Linked DNA regions of Homo sapiens. The protein of the gene in region 3 purifies or fractionates together with the protein of the main gene of each other region. This does not show direct contact. Each region holds a gene or a part of one and is shown on either strand. Other genes may lie near its edges.

Region 1 (4,137 bases), on a different chromosome or scaffold from region 3:
CAAGTAAATGATAACATTTGACGTAGCATGGGCATGACATACTACATGACCACTGGCAGAAATCCCTTATATACAATTATGCAAAATAGCTGAAGCACTTATTAATTTAAATAAAACATTTAAGCCCTTACTCTCTGTGGAAAGTTGTCATAGGACACACTCCTATGAAATCCACCACTGTCCCTTTGAAGCCTTATGAGAAATGTTTCTTTTAAAACAGTTGCAAATTTAAACACTTCCAGAGTGTTGCACCCAAACCCCCAGAGCTATAGTGGTTTGGGTGCAAGTACATGTTGGTATTCAGACTATTGTGAATCGGAAAGCACATTTGTGCATTCGCCATCTAAATGAGATTCAGTCAACAAATACTTACTGATGGTCAGATATTTATTTACTATTTGTCACGCATTTTTTTCAAAAACAAGATATTACAATTTAGAGCAAAAATTTAAGCTTTGGCTTAATGTTGAAAGAAGTACTGCTTGGCTCAAACAAAATATGTCTGTGAACTGTCAGTTTGCCATTGCCATTTATAATTTAGTACCTAGGAAAATTTCACTTCAGAGATGTCTATATTTCTTAGTAATAAAAGCTGTGTGTGTGTGTGTGTGTGTGTGTGTGTGTGTGTGTATGAATGTCCTTGTAGTATGTACTTGTCTGACATCTAAGGAGATAAGAGGCAAAAATCAAAACTTCACGGTAAATGTATTAACCGTTTTTGTAGGCGTATTAACTGTTGTTCAGTCCAGTCCTGTGTGTGGATTAGTCATTATGTTTTTGCCCATAATAACAGAACATCCAACAAAGAGTGGCTTAAACAATAAGTGCATTTATTGGCCTTTATAACTGGAAGTATAGTGGTAGGGCAGTGTTCAGGGTTGGTTTGTCTTGTCATTAAACATTGTCACCAAGGACCTGGCTCCTTTATAATTTACCTTCCATTTTGGTCAGTGACCAGTTTCTTAAAATCCCTTTAAATTGTTTTCAAAACATTGTGTGTTCGCCCCATACCTTCTTCTTTGGTATGTTTGTTGCTATTGCCACACTTTCCCCATACCTGCCAACCTACCCTGTTACCACCTCTTTGTCCATTTCTCCCCAGCCTCAGACAGGTAAGACAGAATTGTTTCTGAAATGGAATAAAGAACAGTCTTGGCCGGGCGCCGTGGCTCATGCCTGTAATCCCAGCACTTTGGGAGGCTGAGATGGGCGGATCACATGAGGTCAGGAGTTTGAGAGTAGTCTGGCCAACATGGTGAAACCCCATCTCTACTAAAAGTACAAAAATTAGCCGGGCGTGGTGGTGCACACCTGTAGTCCCAGCTACTTGGACGGCTGAGGTGGGAGAATTGCTTCAACCTGGGAGGCGGAGATTGCAGTGAGCTGAGATTGCACCATTGCACTCCAGCCTAGGTGACAGAGCAAGACTCCGTCTCAAAAAAAACAAAAAACAAAACAAAAAAAAACAGTCTTATGACTGCTGTTTTCTTTTCAGTTAATCTCCTTTCTTCCTTAAAAAAATCACTTTTCATTTGAATTCAGAAATACTGTGGAATTTGACAAGAATGTTCTGTAGAACAAGAAAACTTGATGAAACTGAGTCAGAAAATGAATTTCAGACCCCGAAAGGGCCTTGACCCTGGAGTCAAGAGCCCTGTTCTGAATTCTGGCCATGACAATTTTGGGTTTTGTATCTTTGGATGAACATTTCACCTCTCTGGGCTTAATTTTCTGTTACATAAATGGGAGTTGCAAACTCCTTTTCCAAAATGCCAGTGAGAATTCCAGAGAAAGTGTATATGAAAAACTTCTAACATAGAATTGGGCTTAGGACAAATACTAAGTAAATATTTTACAAATTTCTGCATTGAGTCATTTTCTTTTGGTTTCATCACTTTGATTGAGACCCAGACTTTTGAAGCTGGGCCCTGGAATTCTGTGAAGTCCAGCCTGGGTATCTTTTTGTGGCTACCATTAAACCCCAAACCAGACATTTATTAAGACTTGTGAAGAGTTGAGAAGTAGTTAATATTGGATGACTTTTCTCGTGGGTTTTTAATTGTTATTCATCTAAACTTTTTGTGGTTTATGTAATATTTCTTACCTCCTTTGGCCTTTTGTTTAAAAGGAGGTGGGGGAAACAACCCCAGAAAGGCTTGGCATCTTTTTTCTATTGCAATCAAAATTTAAAATGAAATAAAATAAGAACTGTTTTTTGTTTTGTTTTGTTTTGGTTTGGTTTTTTTTTTTTTTCAGATGGAGTCTTGCTCTGTCGCCCAGGCTGGAGTGCAGTGGCACAATCTCGGCTCACTGCAAGCCCTGCCTCCGGGGTTCGCCATTCTCCTGCCTCAGCCTCCCAAGTAGCTGGGATTACAGGCACCTGCCACCACGCCCAGCTAATTTTTTTTTTTTTTTTTGTATTTTTTAGTAGAGTCGGGGTTTCACCGTGTTAGCCAGGATGGTCTTGATCTCCCGACCTTGTGATCGGCCCGTCTCAGCCTCCCAAAGTGTCAGGATTACAGGCATGAGCCACCGTCCCTGGCCTGTTATTTTGTTATTTTAAAATACTCATAATTTATTATGCTGCTATACTGTTTTTTTCTGTTTGTTTGTTTTTGTTTTTTTTTGTTTGTTTGTTTGTTTTTTTTGGAGACAAGGTCTTGCTCTGTTGCCTAGACTGGAGTGGAGTGGTGCAATCATGGCTTACTGCAGCCTCGACCTACTGGGCTCAGGTGATCCTCCTATCTCAACATCCCAAGTAGTTAGGACTACAGGTGTGTATCACCACACCCAGCTAATTTTTATTTTTTATTTTTTTTTAGAGATGGGGTCTCTCTCTGTTGTCCAGGCTGGTCTCGAACTCTTAGGCTCAAGCCATCCTCCTGCTTCGACTTCCCAAAGTGTTGGGTTTACAGACATCAGCCACCACGCCTGGCCTGCTATATGTTTTGATACGCCTTTTGGTCATATGTTTGTTTTATCTGTGATTCACAATTATTCCCTTGTCACCCATCAAAACAGCATTATCAGTGGCATGAAGGTTGTTGGAACTACAGTCATTTCAGGCTGTGTCACAATAGAAATTGTTAAGAGCTGTCCATTTGTAATGAAAACTCGAAAATTTTTCATTTTTAAGGCATCTCCTGTCTTGTACTCATTATGTCTCATCCATGGCCTGGAATGTCTTAGCGATTTTCACACTTCTATTTAGTGGCAAAATCATTCCTTCAAAGACAGCTTTTTCATGGGATCCCCTGTATAAAACAGACCAATCTGGATGCCTGATTTTTTAGAGTGGGTTTCAGATGGAAATGGGGGTTATTCAAGAATGAAAGGAATCTCCGCAGATCTCAGAATGGAAAACCACTCCAGTCTGAGTTTGTTTTGCATTTTCTGAGTTTTTATTGCTGGTGCTCAGGTGCTAGGTTCACCTGGTCGGCACATTTCTTCCTCATTTCATTTACTAGGGGCCATGCTAACTGTTGCTCCAGCCTTACTAGCAGTCTACCATCAACGGTAAAAGCATTCCCTTCTCAATCTTTGTGCAAAAGTTTCCTTCCAGGTTGTTGAGTTGACCCACGAAAGTCATGACGCTAATAGAATTGTCTTGACACAAAAACAACAGCATTGAAGAAATCAGAAATGGTGCAGGCTTTCGGGTGTGGGAATGCTTTTTTCTCTCTTGAATGAAGTTGCTGAAGAGTGGTCTTAAGTTATCCTGTTCTGTAACCAACAGGAGGACTCACGAATGGCAGTGGAAGATACATCTCTGCTGCTCCAGGCGCTGAAGCCAAGTACCGCAGTGCAAGCAGCGCCTCCAGCCTCTTCAGCCCGAGCAGCACTCTTTTCTCTTCCTCTCGTTTGCGATATGGAATGTCTGATGTCATGCCTTCTGGCAGGAGCAGGCTTTTGGAAGATTTTCGAAACAACCGGTACCCCAATTTACAACTGCGGGAGATTGCTGGACATATAATGGAATTTTCCCAAGACCAGCATGGGTCCAGGTGAGTACTTGGCTTTGGCACTTTAAGGTACCCGAAATTGTAATGCCTTAACTGTCTTGGCTCAGATGGGTATCTACTTAAATAAATTGCCATATAGTAATTTTTTAAAAGCGTGCCTCTTAGTTTGCATCAC
Region 2 (4,744 bases), on a different chromosome or scaffold from region 3:
GGGCAGCTGCTCCCGCCCAGTCCATGCCCCCAGGCGCCTGCTGTGGGCCTGGGGAATGGAGCCAAGGTTCTGGAAAACAAGGAACACCCTCTTCATGTGGCCTGAACCCCATAGGAAGAATCTCGGTGAAGGCATGAAGGCTACAGTGTCCCCAAACACCCTCTAAGACGACTCTAGACATCTACAAAACAGATTCCAGGACGAGACGGACAGGGCCGCCTGCTCCCACCACCCTACACGCTCCCTTCCCAGGAGGACAGAGGCACCCCGGCAGGAACCTGAGCTGCCCGGCCACTCGCACAGGCTAGAAGGGCCCCGGCCACCCTCCAGCACCCCTCAGCCAGCGGCTCCTCCCACTGCTACACTTGCACACATCCACCAATACACACGGAAGCCGGCAGGGAGCCCCCGAGTCACCCCAAGCGTTCCCAAAAAGTGGGCACAGCAACTTCTGCTGGGGCCTCTGACCCATTCACCTGGGAGCCAGGCCCCAGGGGACCCATTCACCTGGGAGCCAGGCTCAGCCGGGTTCCACAGGATCCTTGTCCACACTGCCCCAGTCAGGCAGGTTACTCCTCAAGCTGTGTCTCTCTCAATGGAATCTACGTGGTGCGCACATGCGTGAGCACACACACGTGATCAACTGGCATTAGGGATTTGGATTCAGAAAGTTCATGAAGTGCCAATGCCCTGAAAGGGGTGGTGGTCTCTGAGCTGCCTTCCCCTCCAACTCCAACCCCATCAATATGCCACGGCGCTAGGGCAGACAGCTTCCATCCATCATGGGGGTGGGGAGGCAGGCCGCAAGGCAGGACTCTTTGTATCCCTTAAGTGTGTGTGTCCCTCCCCAAGCAGCTGCCAGGACTTACTAGATGTTTTAAAAAAGGGCAGGGAGGTGGGAGGCGTTTTAGGATGGAGAAGAGTGGGCTGCGCTGCTTGTAAATGAGTCAGACTAGAAGCCCATAGGCCAGGCCACTCAGGCAGGTGGCCTCCACCCCAAACACATCGTATCTACAGCAACGTTCACAAACATCAGACCTTGGTAGCAATGACCTACTGCCACCACCTGCCCCAGCACTAGAACAGGTGAGAGGAGTGCCTGGGGAAGAACTCAGCCTGCCAGTCCCTAAGAGTCATCAGCAAACACTTCAAGAGGGCGTTACCTGCACCAGGCCCACCCTAGGCCCTCCATTCAGAGAACTCAGATGTGCTGTGACCACTCCCATTTTACGGGTGAGGAAACTGAGGCCACACACCTAGCGAAGGGAGCTGGGGTGTGTACCAAGGCAGGCAGGCTCCAAGGCTCACCATCCCCTAGGTGGTATGGCCTCTGCCAGGGATGGAGAAGTGCAATCTGCCTTCTCTTCACTCCCTTGGCTTAAACGCAATCAAATGTCTGAAAACTGTCATTTCCCCAGCCTTCCAGACCCAGGAAGCCCAAGGCCCTCTCCACTTCATCTCCACGGACTACCCACCCCAAGCCAGCCATGTCCACTCACCCGTAAGTCCGCTGGATCAAGGTGGGGTGCAGCTGCTGCACCCCAATGGCAAAGCCTAAAACGAGAGAACAATCAGGGACTTGGCCTTGCTGCACGAGCCACGTCTCAAGGGCTGCACACAGGGTGGCAGAATCCCACAAGCCACACACCTCTAGTCAAAAGGGATCATCCGCTTCCTCTCCCCTCCCAGGCCTCCCCCTTGTGAACCCCAAGGCACACCGCTGAAGTGTGGCAGTGAGTGACGCAGGTGTCAGCAGCCACTGGTGTCGGCACTCCCAACCTCCAGGCCCCATGGCCACTTCCTCCCTCCTGCGAGGACAGCTGGCAACTGGGGTGCAGTACCCTCCCTGCCCCCCGCCCCCTTCTTTGGGCCACACGCTGTGAGAAGGGGTCTAGATCCTCGAGGGGGGGATGGCTGCCCTGTGCCGGCTCTGCAGGCACATGATAGCCGACTGCCACTGCTGGGGCGAGGAGGGGGGGCCTCTTTCCACCCGACAGATACCGACACCCAATATAGAAACCGAGAAGAGCCAGGCAGGAAAACACAAGCTCTCACCCGTCTGGAGGCTCCGCGGCTTGGCGCCCAGATATGCCAGGTTCACGTTGGCCTTGCGGCCGTCGATGATGGGGTTCGGGTCTTTGCAAGCCCTCTCAGCTGCCGCCCGGTCGGCCATGGTCACCTGGTGGAGCAGAGACACATCAGGGGCTGCCGTGGGGGGAACCAGGGGCGAAAGGGGCAGACGGCTCCGCCCTGGCACCGGATGCTGCCACCCCTCTCTTCCCTTCCTCTGAGGGTGCCTGTGACCCAGGGTCCTTGAGCCAAAGCTCCTCTGAACCCTACCTGGGGCTCTCCCACAAAGATGCCTCCTGGATTCCAGCTCCTCCCGTCAAAGTTCAAGGCCTGGGAAATGTGGCCTTCAAGGACAAAAATAATCCCCTGCGGGGATAGGGCAAAAATGAACCCCGAAGGGAGCTTGGGGGGCCGCCTGGACTTGCCCACCAGTGAGGGCCGAGACTTTCCTCTGAGAAGGAGTTTGCGACGCTATGCTTGGAAGGTAAGCAGGAAAGTGTCTTCAAGACGTTTTTACTTAAGCTGATGTTTATTTGGGGCGGCTGAGAGGGCTGTTAAAAATATGGGGGAGGCCGAAGAGCTCCTAACACCCCGGGGTGGAGCCATTGCTCCTCACCCCCCGCTGCTCCAGGAAATCCCGAGTGCCCTCTGGCTCCAAAACCTCCCCACCAACTTAGGAGTCCTAATTGAACACAGCGGCTCTTCCTTTTAAACCGGGGGTGGGGGTGGGGGTGGGGGTGGGGGTGGGGGCCGGGGCCTGGGGTGGTGGGGGCGGGACCGGCAGGAGCGCGCCCGGGAGAGGCGGCAGGTGCGGGCGCCGGCTGGAGGCGCCTGGGGCGGGGGCGGCAGCGGGCCGTCTGGGCGTGTGCCCCGGAGTGGACTCGGCGCCCGGGCCGCGATAAGGTGTGCGGCGGGGTGCGGGCCCGGGCGCGGGGGCCACTTACGAAGCCGTAGCCGCGGGACTTGCCCGTCTGGCGGTCGGTGATGACCACGGCCTCCTCGATGTCGCCGAAGCCCTCGAAGTACTTCCTGAGCGAGGCGTCGGTAGTGTGGTACGGCAGGCCGCCCACGAAGATCTTGGTGAACGTGGTGTCCTTCTGCGAGCCGTGCATGGCGCCGGGGGCGGCCAGGGGCCGCGGGAAGCCCGCGCTCGGGGCGCACGGCGCGGGCTGCAGCAGCATGGGGGGCGCCCCGCCGCCTACGGACCCGGGCCGCGCGGGGCTGCGCTCATGGGGGGCGGCGGGGAGCGCGCGGGGCAGCGAGGGGCGCCCGTCCAGCCGCCAGGCCCGACCACTCCGGCGCCCGTCCCGCCGTGCGCGCCGACGTGCGCCGCGCTGCGCTCCCGACCGGCGCTGCGGGGACTCTGCGCCCCGGCACCGCCCCCGGGCTTTGTAGCCTGCCGCCCCCGCCAGCTCAGCCCCGCCCCCAGCCGGCCCCGCCCCGCCCCGGGCGCGCGGGGACCGCCGGGAAGCGTAGTTCTAACCCCGCCCAGCCGCACCCGGGCGCGCGGCGATTGGGGGGAGGGGGGAGGGGAGCGCACGCGGGCTGAGGGCGGATCCGGGCCTGGGGGCGCTGGGCGCGCCTTTCTCTCCTGGCTGCCCCCGCGGGCCCGGCCGGTTGCAGGCACTAAGCACAACCCTGAACTAGGGAGGCCAGGCCCCTTCCCTCGTGGAGCGCACCGTCTGGTGAATTAAACGTAAAAAACGTAAAAAAACGTAAACGGTTTTTAGCATCTTGTTAATTGAGTCGGTATTTAACCCAGGGCGACTTAGGGAAGAGCCACGTGCCATATTAAAAAAGGGAAATGATTTCTGTTTTATATGTAAGATTAGTTCATCCGACCGATATTTACTCTGGGCGCGAGGCTGCAGCGGAGCACAGATCATATTCCCTGGCCCCACGGAGCGTCCAGGACTGAGAATTCGGCTAGTAAACATACAGCATACGACCCCGGAGGGAGCTACACCACGGTGCCGCGATAGAAGCGGGTCCCGGGCGGTCTCAGAGGCCCCGCGGGAGATGAGGTGGGCAGAGGAAGCAGGTGTGGGCTCTTTCCAGCTCCACCCCGTTCTGGGCTGGTGTCAGGGACCCTTGGGGCGAGTAAGAGCAGACCCGGGTCCCTCATCCGGCCCCCAGCCATAGAAAGGCGGCGCATAGTGGGGCTCTGTGAGCTTCACACCAGGCAGGGCCAGCCACAGAATTTTCGGGGCCCAGTGCAAAATGCAAACGCGGGGCCCCTTATTCAAAAGCTAGGAATTTCAAGTTGGCAGCGGTTGAGCATGAAACTCAGCCCCGGGCTTTCCTGAGCGAAGGGAAGGGCCGTGTGACTGCACAGACCCCGGGATCCCGGACCTGCGGGTCACACCCTCCACCTCTGAAGCCGGGACTAGGGGCCTCAAGCCCGCCTCATCTCCAGCCCCCGCGGTTGGGACCTATGCAGCTGGGAAACAGCAGCTCTAATTGGGGTCACTCCCGGCCCCAGCCCTGCGGCCTCCTCTCAGCACAGGGCGACGCAGGTGGGGTCTGTGGGGACTGGGAGTGGCACTCCGTGGGCTGTGGGGGACCGCAAGGCCGGCGAGGAGTTCCCCTCGTTTCCTCCAGCACCGAGGAGTTCTCCGCGTTTCCTCCAGCCCTCTGCCCTGGCTGCCGGCGGGGAGGAGTCTGCCCGCCCCCT
Region 3 (4,775 bases):
GCCCACAGCAGGCGCTTGAGAACACCCAATGAAGGAAAGACAGGAATAATCCTTACTAACAGATGAAGACTCTGAGCCCCTTCAGGAAAAAAACACCAGCTCCAAGTTTCCAAGCTCCTGCACATCCTCACTCTGTCTCCATCTCAGCCCTCAGCCAGCAGATGAGAAGGTGCAGTCCGGGCTGAAGGAGCTGAGTCACTCACCAGGACCACAGCTAATACCTGGCTAGTTTCAACCCCGCACTCACTATGTGCCAGGTGCTGGGCTGCTGTGACTCTCATTTCACACCTAAAGAAACTGAGTCTAAGGAACACTCAAGACCACAGGCCCAGCGAGGTGGCGCTGCTGGAGTCCAGCTACTCATGCTGCACCTCGCCTGCCTCCCTCGATTCCTTAGCTGATTCCTCAGCTGGGGCCACACAGCGCACCCAGCTCCCTCTGCCCTGGGACAAGCCAGCCAAGTCCAAGGCCAAGATCCCATCATACTCCTGAGGCTGCTCCAGGCCAAATGCCCAGTTCCCACAGCCAGGACTCATGGGACACTGTTTGCAGGACAGAATTTGGCAGGTACAGGGAAGCTACTGGCAGGGTCAGCTTCACAGAAAGGAATAAGCACTGAGCCGGGAGTAAACACCAGGAGTCCAGAGCCTGGTTCTGTTGGGAGATTCTGGAAAAGTCAATGAACCCTACTAAAAACCAGGCACTGTTTTATGTGCACTGTCTCACTCGAATGTCCCAACCATGGAAGAAACATACTATTCTTTTTCTTTTTTTGAAACAGAGTCTCGCTCTGTCACCCAGGCTGGAGTGCAATGGCGCGATCTCGGCTCACTGCAACCTCTGCCTCCCAAGTTCAAGGGATTCTCCTGCCTCAGCTTCCCGAGTAGCTGGGATTACAGGTGCCCGCCACCACGCTTGGCTAATTTTGGTATTTTTAGTAGAGACAGGGCTTCACCATGTTGGCCAGGCTGGTCGCTAACTCCTGACCTCGTGATCCGCCTGCCTCGGCCTCCCAAAGTGCTGGGATTACAGGCATGAGCCACCACGCCCAGCTGGTACTATTCTTATGCCCATGTTACAGATGAGTAAACTGAGGCTCAAAGCCATGGGGTCCACCTGCCTGACATTAGGAATAAGCAGAACTAGGATTCAAACCCAGATGGGCCTGGCTACAAAATCTGCTTCTTTTTATTTATTTGCTTTTTAAGAGTAATTTTTTGTTTGTCTGTTTTGAGACAAGAGTTTCACTCTTGTTGCCCAGGCTGGAGTGCAATGGCATGATCTCGGCTCACTGCAACCTCCGCCTCCCAGGTTCAAGCGATTCTCCTGCCTCAGCCTCCCGAGTACAGGCATGCACCAAAATGCCTGGCTAATTTTTTGTATTTTTAGTAGAGACGGGATTTCACCATGTTGGCCAGGCTGGTCTCGAACTCCTGACCTCGTGATCCACCCGCCTCGGCCTCCCAAAGTGCTGGGATTACAGGCATGAGCCACCACGCCCAGCAGGTACTATTCTTATGCCCATGTTACAGATGAGTAAACTGAGGCTCAAAGCCATGGGGTCCACCTGCCTGACATTAGGAATAAGCAGAACTAGGATTTGAACCCAGATGGGCCTGACTACAAAATCTGCTTCTTTTTATTTATTTGCTTTTTAAGAGTAATTTTTTGTTTGTTTGTTTTGAGACAAGAGTTTCACTCTTGTTGCCCAGGCTGGAGTGCAATGGCATGATCTCGGCTCACTGCAACCTCCGCCTCCCAGGTTCAAGCGATTCTCCTGCCTCAGCCTCCCGAGTACAGGCATGCACCAACCTGCCTGGCTAATTTTTTGTATTTTTAGTAGAGATGGGATTTCACCACGTTGGCCAGGCTGGTCTTCAACTCCTGACCTCAGGTGATCTGCCTGCCTCAGCCACCCAAAATGCTGGGATTACAGGTGTGAGCCACCACATCTGGCCAAGAATAATTTTTTTATTGTGGTAGAAAACATTTACCATCTTAACATTTTTAAGTGTACAGTACAGTAGTAGTAACTACATCCACCCTGTGGTGCAACAGAGCTTTAGAACTTTTTAAATCTTACAAAACTGAAACAAAACTGAACTTCCCCTTTCCTCCTCCCCCCATCCCTGTCAACCTGCACTGTATTTTCTTTTTCTGAGGGTTTGACTTTTCTTTTAGGTTTTTTTTTCTTTACCAAAAATACAGAAGGTTTCACGAATTTTTGTGTCATCCTTGCACAGTGGCCATGCTAATCCCCGTATCGTTCCAATTTTAGTATATGTGCTGCCGAAGTGAGCTCCCTTCCTCCCTTCCTCTCTCTCTCTGTTTTTTTTTTTTTTTTTTTTGAGATGGAGTCTTGCTCTGTCACCCAGGCTGGAGTACAGTGGTGTGATCACAGTTCACTGCAGCCTGGAACTCCTGGGCTCAAGCAAGGTTTAACTATTTTAGATACTTATCAGCGGATCATACAATACTGTCTTTTTGCGACTGGCTTATTTCACTTAGCATAACATCTTCAGGGCTCATCGATATTGTAGCATAGGACAGGATTTCTTTCTTTTTTAAGATTGAATAATATTGCGTTATGTGTAGAGACCACATTTTCTTTCTCGATGTATCCCTCAATGGACATTTAGCTTGCGTCCACCTCTTGGCTATTGCTAATAATGCTGTAATGAACATAAGTGTATAAGTACCTCTTCAAGATCCAAAATCCACTTTTTTTTTTGGAGACAGAGTTTTGCTCTTGTTGTCCAGGCTGGGCTGCAATGGCGTGATCTAGGCTAACCACAATCTCTGCCTCCCGGGTTCAAGCGATTCTCCTGCCTCAGCCTCCCAGGTAGCTGGAACTGCAGGCATGTGCCACAACGCCCAGCTAATTTTGTATTTTTAGTAGAGATGACGTTTCTCCATGTTGGTCAGGCTGGTCTCAAACTCCTGACCTCAGGTGATCTGCTCACCTCAGCCTCCCAAAGTGTTGGGATTACAGGCGTGAGCTACCGCGCCCGGCCCAAAACCAACTCTTAACCACTGGATTATCCTGTCTCTAGGATCAGATTGTGTCAGAGGAGTTCATGAAGTTACTCATTCATTCATTCATTCATTCAACTGTTAAGCAGACCTTGTGCTAGGGTATGGCAGTAACTGAGATAGCCCTGGCCCTGCCCTCATGGGCTCACAGTCCAGTGTGGGACACAGACTTGTCCCCATACAAGGACAACCTAGAGTGGACAGCGCTGAGATGGGGGCCCACAGGGGGAACACCTGACCCAGACTTGGGGGTCAGTCTGGAGCTTCCTGGAGGAGGCGACGCCTGAGCTGCGACCTGTTTACTTCTTATTTCCGTATCAACAGAGGATTCTGTTTCTTTATCCAAACCACTGATTAAAAAGGAAAGTTGACAAGGACAGAAGCAATGACAGAACCGGAGTCTGCTTGGGACTGAAGACAGGGAGAGAAAGCAGGCACCAACGACAAATCAGGAAGACAGAAACCAACTGCATCTGGACATACTCATTCAGCCTGCCACAATCTACCGCAGCTTCACTGACACTCGCTCCACAGCCTCTGCTCTCGGCCCAAGGCTGAGATGAGAGTCCCCTCCTCAAAGCAGCCATCAGCCACGGCCCAGCCATACTCCACAGCTTGGCAGCCCAGATCGGAATGCAGGTCACGTTCACATACAGGGACAAAGGCCGCTTGTACAGGCCTGCACCACAAAGCACCCATAGACATTGGTTCTTTGAGCTCTTCCCCATTATCCAGTGAGAGGGGTTGGTCGTCACCACTGTCCTGAGGGGGAATACAATGCAGCAAGCTTCCCTGCTAACAGGGAGGGGGCCTGGAGTCTCAGCTCCAGCCTTCCTTCCTCTGCACCATCCCTCCACCTGGATCCAAACTCCAGTTCTATCAGCAACAGTAATGTCAATAACAAGAGCTAATATTTACTGAGCGATAGCGACGCTGGCCAGGCTGCTCTCAGTGGTCCATGTGTCCAACACTCCAACAACATCGAAGGACATGCTCTTGTCTCCACTGTTAGTGGCAAACCATTAATTGGCAACCAACATCTATTCCCTTTGCTACAACAGTAACAGAACTCCAAATATATCTGGTCAGGGCGACCCAAAATAAAGTCTACACCTCTTAGCCTTCCTCACGGCTGTTCATAAGACTACTTCCTGGTCAGCAGGGGAGGAGTGGAAATGTTACGGGAAAACATCCCGAAACTTTTTTTTTAAAGACAGGGTCTTATTCTCCCACTCAGGCTGGAGTGCAGTGGTACAATCACAGCTCACTGCAGCCTCCACCTCCTGGGTTCAAGAGATTCTCCCACCTCAGCCTCTTGAGGAGCTGGGACCACAGATGCACGCCATCATGCCCGGCTAATTTTTGTATATTTTGGTATAGACGGGGTTTCACCATGTTGTCCAGGCTGTTCTCGAACTCCTGGGCTCAAGCAGTCCTCCTGCCTCGGCCTCCCGAAGTGCTGGGATTACAGGCGTGAGCCACTGCACCTGGCCTAGAAACTTTCTCAACAAATGGCATGAGCGCTTTGCCCCTTTTCCTCCCTTTTTCCTCCCTGCTGGATAGAATGAAGACATGATGGCCAGAGCCTCTTAGACCTCGATGCAACACTAGGAAGAGAAGCTGTGCCCAGGAGAACAAAACAGAAGCGGCTTAGGTCCCCGAGCTAACTGGTTACCTCTTGGCTTTTCTGTGGCTAAGAAATAAACATCTATCTTGTTTAAGCCACTGACGGATGCTCTAGG
Region 4 (4,137 bases), on a different chromosome or scaffold from region 3:
ACCCTAAAAAGGTAATCTGACCTGCTAATGGTTACTCCCCACTTTTCCCTGGTAACCACTAATCTGTGTTCAGTCGCTACAGATTTGCCTATTCTGGACACTTCATGTAAAAGGAATCACGCAATGTGTGGTCTTTTGTGTCTGGCTTTGACATGTACTCTTAAAGAATCTTCACAATAATCTTGAGATAGAAATTTCCACCTAACTTGCGTCTCTGGCTTCAGTTAGTTTTAACTGGTAGCAGCCATTCACTCAAGAAAATGGAAAATCTCCAGAACTGTTAAGAGACCTATTTCCTTACTATGTTGGTACCTGTACAATAGGAATAACAATGCATGAGGGTGGGGGAGCGAGGACGGACTTGGCAAATTCTCTGGCATGACCACCCCAGCACAGTGTATGATGAACAACAAAACCAACTCTCAGCAAACATTACTTAAAAGTATTTTTTTATTTAATTTCTGAGGTAAAATACTTTTTTCTTTCAACTTCCATAACAAAATACAGAGCTATCAGATACCCCTGGAAAAAATATGTATATTATACATATATTTCTATAACATTACATCATATATATATAATATATATGCAAAAATTTGAAGACTTTATAGAAAGCGGAACATCTAAAAGGCACTGCACAATGGAGTTAAGATTACTTACATTTTATGTACATATACACACTTTACTCTGCTCAAGCAGGTAACTAGTGAAGTCACCTTTCACATGTAAATGTCTCATTCACAAATCCCTGCATCACAATTCTATAACTCAAAGAATGCTTAAATATCTCAAAACAAATTAACTGGTAACTTTTTATCCCCCTAAGAAGAAACCAAGAATGGAACAGTTCTTGAAAGATTGAATCAAAGTTGTCTTCTAAACAAAATAAAAATGTACGTTCCATTACTGTTTACAAAACAAAAAGCACAAACATAATTATGGAATAAATAAAAAACAAGGGACAAACAGCCAACTGACTCTACCCACTTGGTGAGAAGTGATATACTTCAACTATTTTTTTAATGCTTCTGAAAGTTTCTTGGCCCACAGAGGACTAGGGTGCAATCATTCCCTGTGTTAGTGAGTTGGGTTTAATGCAGCTTCAAAATTAGGGTAAAGGGACTTGGTGAAATGTTTACATTAAATATTTCACTCCTACCCATTCTTCAGGAAAAAAGGTGAGCTCAGCAAGGCTGGATGCCATTAAGAGATATTTACTGTTTTCTTTTTCTATAGCTAAAAAAGCAAACTTTACACGAAGAAGCTCTTGATTAAGGAAATTTCAATAGATTCATATTTATAAAATTTTAAACATTTGGCACAGCAAAATTTGGAAAAAATGGGGGAGAAAAAATAGGTCTGGTTGTTGTCCCCCTTTTTCCACCTGCTGCTGGACAGTGATGAGATGCTCACAGAAGAAAAAGGCCTGGCTTTGTACCAGGCTGGCGACAGGTGCTACCAGGAGTGGGCTGAGGGGAGAAAAACTATCTCCCACTCTTTTGGCCCAGGCAATGTCAACGACTTCCACATTCCCTGGCCCACTTCCTGAGCAACCCCAGGTTCGGCTCTGTATAAGGACCCTCCCCTCCCAACCCCAACCCCAGAGTGCAGTGCAAATCAACCAACAATTTACTGGTGGAATGGCAATCAAAGGAAACAGTTAAACACCAAACAATTTCTTAAAGCCAAAAAATATTTTTCATGGAGTTGAACATTTTTCGAGTGTGTTTTTTTCAAGTGTAAAAGCAGTGACATTTTGTTCAAACAGAAGCAGCATCTAGGAATTCTGGCACTTGGGTTCTAGGGGGTTACAGGTATGCATCATGGATTCTTCTCCCTCGTATTTAAAAAGGCCTCGTGTTTCTATTCCTGAGTTCATACCAACACCTGCTAGCTCTCCCCTCTAGCGGACAGTGGGTGGCCAGCCAGCCTCCCTGGTTAGATTGGGCAATGCCAAGCAGACATCCCTCATTCACCTGCTGGGCTTGCTTTCTGATTCAGAGGTAAGTCGAAGTGCAGAGAAAGAAACTTACAAAAGCACAACCACCAAAGGCAGCCTGAACGGGGAGCCCTGTGCAGACTGAGTTGCTGGAGACTACCCTCTCAGTCCCATTCCTGGGGAAAGGTAGGTCACTCATGGAATTTGAATCAAACATGGGGGAGGACACCTGCCAAGCAATAGTATGATGGACTCAAGTCATCCCAGGCCATCTACTGTCTCCCTCACCTGCCCTAACCTTTTCTGAGTCCCTCCCTCTCTTGTGCAAGCACTGTAGTTTAAAAAGGAAAAAACACCCCCCACCATTAAAAGACAACCTTCAAATGTTACTCAGTATATAAAGTTTGCTTAGGCTAAGGTGGAGTCAGAAATGTCTCTAATTGTAGACACCATCTCTGTGCCACCCTTCCTCTCATCGGATATGGAGTGATTTCTTCTCTCGCTGCTGCGACGCAGATCTGAGCCACAGTCAGGTACCAATGTACACGACATAGGCACATGTGCAAACACAAAGAAGGTGGGCTGCTGCTTCTTTCTCTCTGCCCCTAGTCCAGGCTCCTTTGCTTCACGTAAGATTAACACTTTCCCATTCCTCTGAAGTTGCTGGAAGGACATTTCCCAGGAAGAAACAATTCCTCACTGCCTATAAACTGTAGTCTCATGTGGGATAGTCAATTGAACATGAGAATCAGAACAATCTGGGCAAATGGGTATGGCAAGAATGGGAACACCACAACAGGACAGATGCCAACTCTCATTCATGCCAGGCCTTTTGGCATCTGGGTGCCTTCTGTGTCTTCTTTCCACCTCTTCCTTCAGTCTCAACATCCACTTGTACCCCCAGCTACCTCCCATGTTTCCAGGTATCATTGGCTCTTAACTCCCACAAGCCTGCCTTTTGGCTACCCATCCCAACAATATCAAGAGGGAATGACTAAGTATCAGCTAGAAACTTAGCCATGTCTCAACATTCCTGGATTATCTGAAAAGCTGTCGATGCCCTTTTACAGGTTTATGGTGACAGACCCGTATCATCTTAAAGTATGTTCATAGTTAAGGCTTGACTTAAGAAAATAAGAGAACCAGACATAATGGAAAGACCTCTTCAATAATGTTGTCATGCCTCTCAGTGAACGTGCTCACAGTCACACTTGGTTTGGCTCCCCAAACCCACAATAGAAAAGGAAAAATGAGTATTTTGTTTTTCATCTGTTTTGTATTTAAAGGCATTGGGTTACTTCCTCCTGCCCTCTTTTCTTCCCTGAACAAGAGTTTACAACTCCTCATGGCTTCTTAATAGGTGAAGTAGGTGAAAAGTCTGAGAAGCTCACAGCAGGGTTTGCCGTCCCAACTATGCAGCTGAGAGGTCGCCAGCTCCTGTGCCTTCCCAGCCCCACTATAATTGGCAGTATGTTTGTTCATGTTTCCTGAAAACATTTTCTTTAAAAAGGAAAAGAAAAAAATGCCAAACAACACCAACCAAAAAAAAAAAAAAAAAAAAAAGAAGGAAGAAGAAAAAGAGCAACATCCAAACATTCCCCAAGCCCCACCCCAGTAAGTCTGAGATTATCTTATTCCTTCCCTGAAATAATTATAAAGAAGCATTTCAGGCAAAATACTTAGTATTAATGGTCTCTTACTGCTCAACCTCCCAACCATGCCCTTTTCCCTTTTATGTGTATCTCTTGGAGTAAAATAAATTCATTAATGGCTTTCCACATACAAATACAATAGAAAAGAAAGAAGTCTGGAACCTGACTATCATGGGACCAAAAAGTATCTTGGCCCTTTGGGAGTTTCCTTGTCAGAAAGTATAAGCCTCAACAGGAAATAGAGGCTCCTTCTCCTTTGAGTTCAATACCCTCCCTGTGTCCTACTCACCAGGAAAATAAGTGTGTTCATATCCCACCTAATTTACAACAGAAGATAACCCCATCCCATCCCCAAAACATAAAAATACAAGTCTATGCCCCTAGAATGATCAAACCAGTTTAACTCCCTCCCCCCCACCCTGAAATCTTGCTACATAAATACATGTATGTATTTGATTATAGTATAAACAGCTCCTAATCCACTTCCAGTTCTAAGCATCAGCAGCTGCTGTTGCCAAGCCCTGGGGTCCTGACCCATTCCAGAGA

What was found. Proteins that work in one complex are often made in the same cells at the same time.
Region 1: the proteins of CLASRP (region 3) and PUM1 purify together in Homo sapiens (affinity purification with mass spectrometry; 2 studies listed by BioGRID and IntAct, with this or other methods). This does not show direct contact.
Region 2: the proteins of CLASRP (region 3) and RBM38 purify together in Homo sapiens (affinity purification with mass spectrometry; one large-scale study listed by BioGRID and IntAct). This does not show direct contact.
Region 4: the proteins of CLASRP (region 3) and ETV3 purify together in Homo sapiens (affinity purification with mass spectrometry; one large-scale study listed by BioGRID and IntAct). This does not show direct contact.

What each region holds. Positions count from the first base shown.
Region 1 is NC_000001.11:30,953,581-30,957,717, reverse strand, and holds part of PUM1 (pumilio homolog 1), read left to right. Parts: intron 1-3,736; coding exon 3,737-4,004; intron 4,005-4,137. UniProt on the Homo sapiens protein: Sequence-specific RNA-binding protein that acts as a post-transcriptional repressor by binding the 3'-UTR of mRNA targets.
Region 2 is NC_000020.11:57,390,089-57,394,832, reverse strand, and holds the start of RBM38 (RNA-binding protein 38), read right to left. Parts: upstream 3,438-4,744; 5' UTR 3,252-3,437; coding exon 3,015-3,251; intron 2,555-3,014; exon of another isoform or gene 2,437-2,554; coding exon of another isoform or gene 2,341-2,436; exon of another isoform or gene 2,180-2,340; coding exon 2,056-2,179; exon of another isoform or gene 1,777-2,055; intron 1,555-1,776; coding exon 1,500-1,554; intron 1-1,499. UniProt on the Homo sapiens protein: RNA-binding protein that specifically bind the 3'-UTR of CDKN1A transcripts, leading to maintain the stability of CDKN1A transcripts, thereby acting as a mediator of the p53/TP53 family to regulate CDKN1A.
Region 3 is NC_000019.10:45,044,985-45,049,759, reverse strand, and holds part of CLASRP (CLK4-associating serine/arginine rich protein), read right to left. Parts: intron 1-4,775. UniProt on the Homo sapiens protein: Probably functions as an alternative splicing regulator. May regulate the mRNA splicing of genes such as CLK1. May act by regulating members of the CLK kinase family.
Region 4 is NC_000001.11:157,120,759-157,124,895, forward strand, and holds the end of ETV3 (ETS translocation variant 3), read right to left. Parts: coding exon 4,083-4,137; 3' UTR 433-4,082; downstream 1-432. UniProt on the Homo sapiens protein: Transcriptional repressor that contribute to growth arrest during terminal macrophage differentiation by repressing target genes involved in Ras-dependent proliferation. Represses MMP1 promoter activity.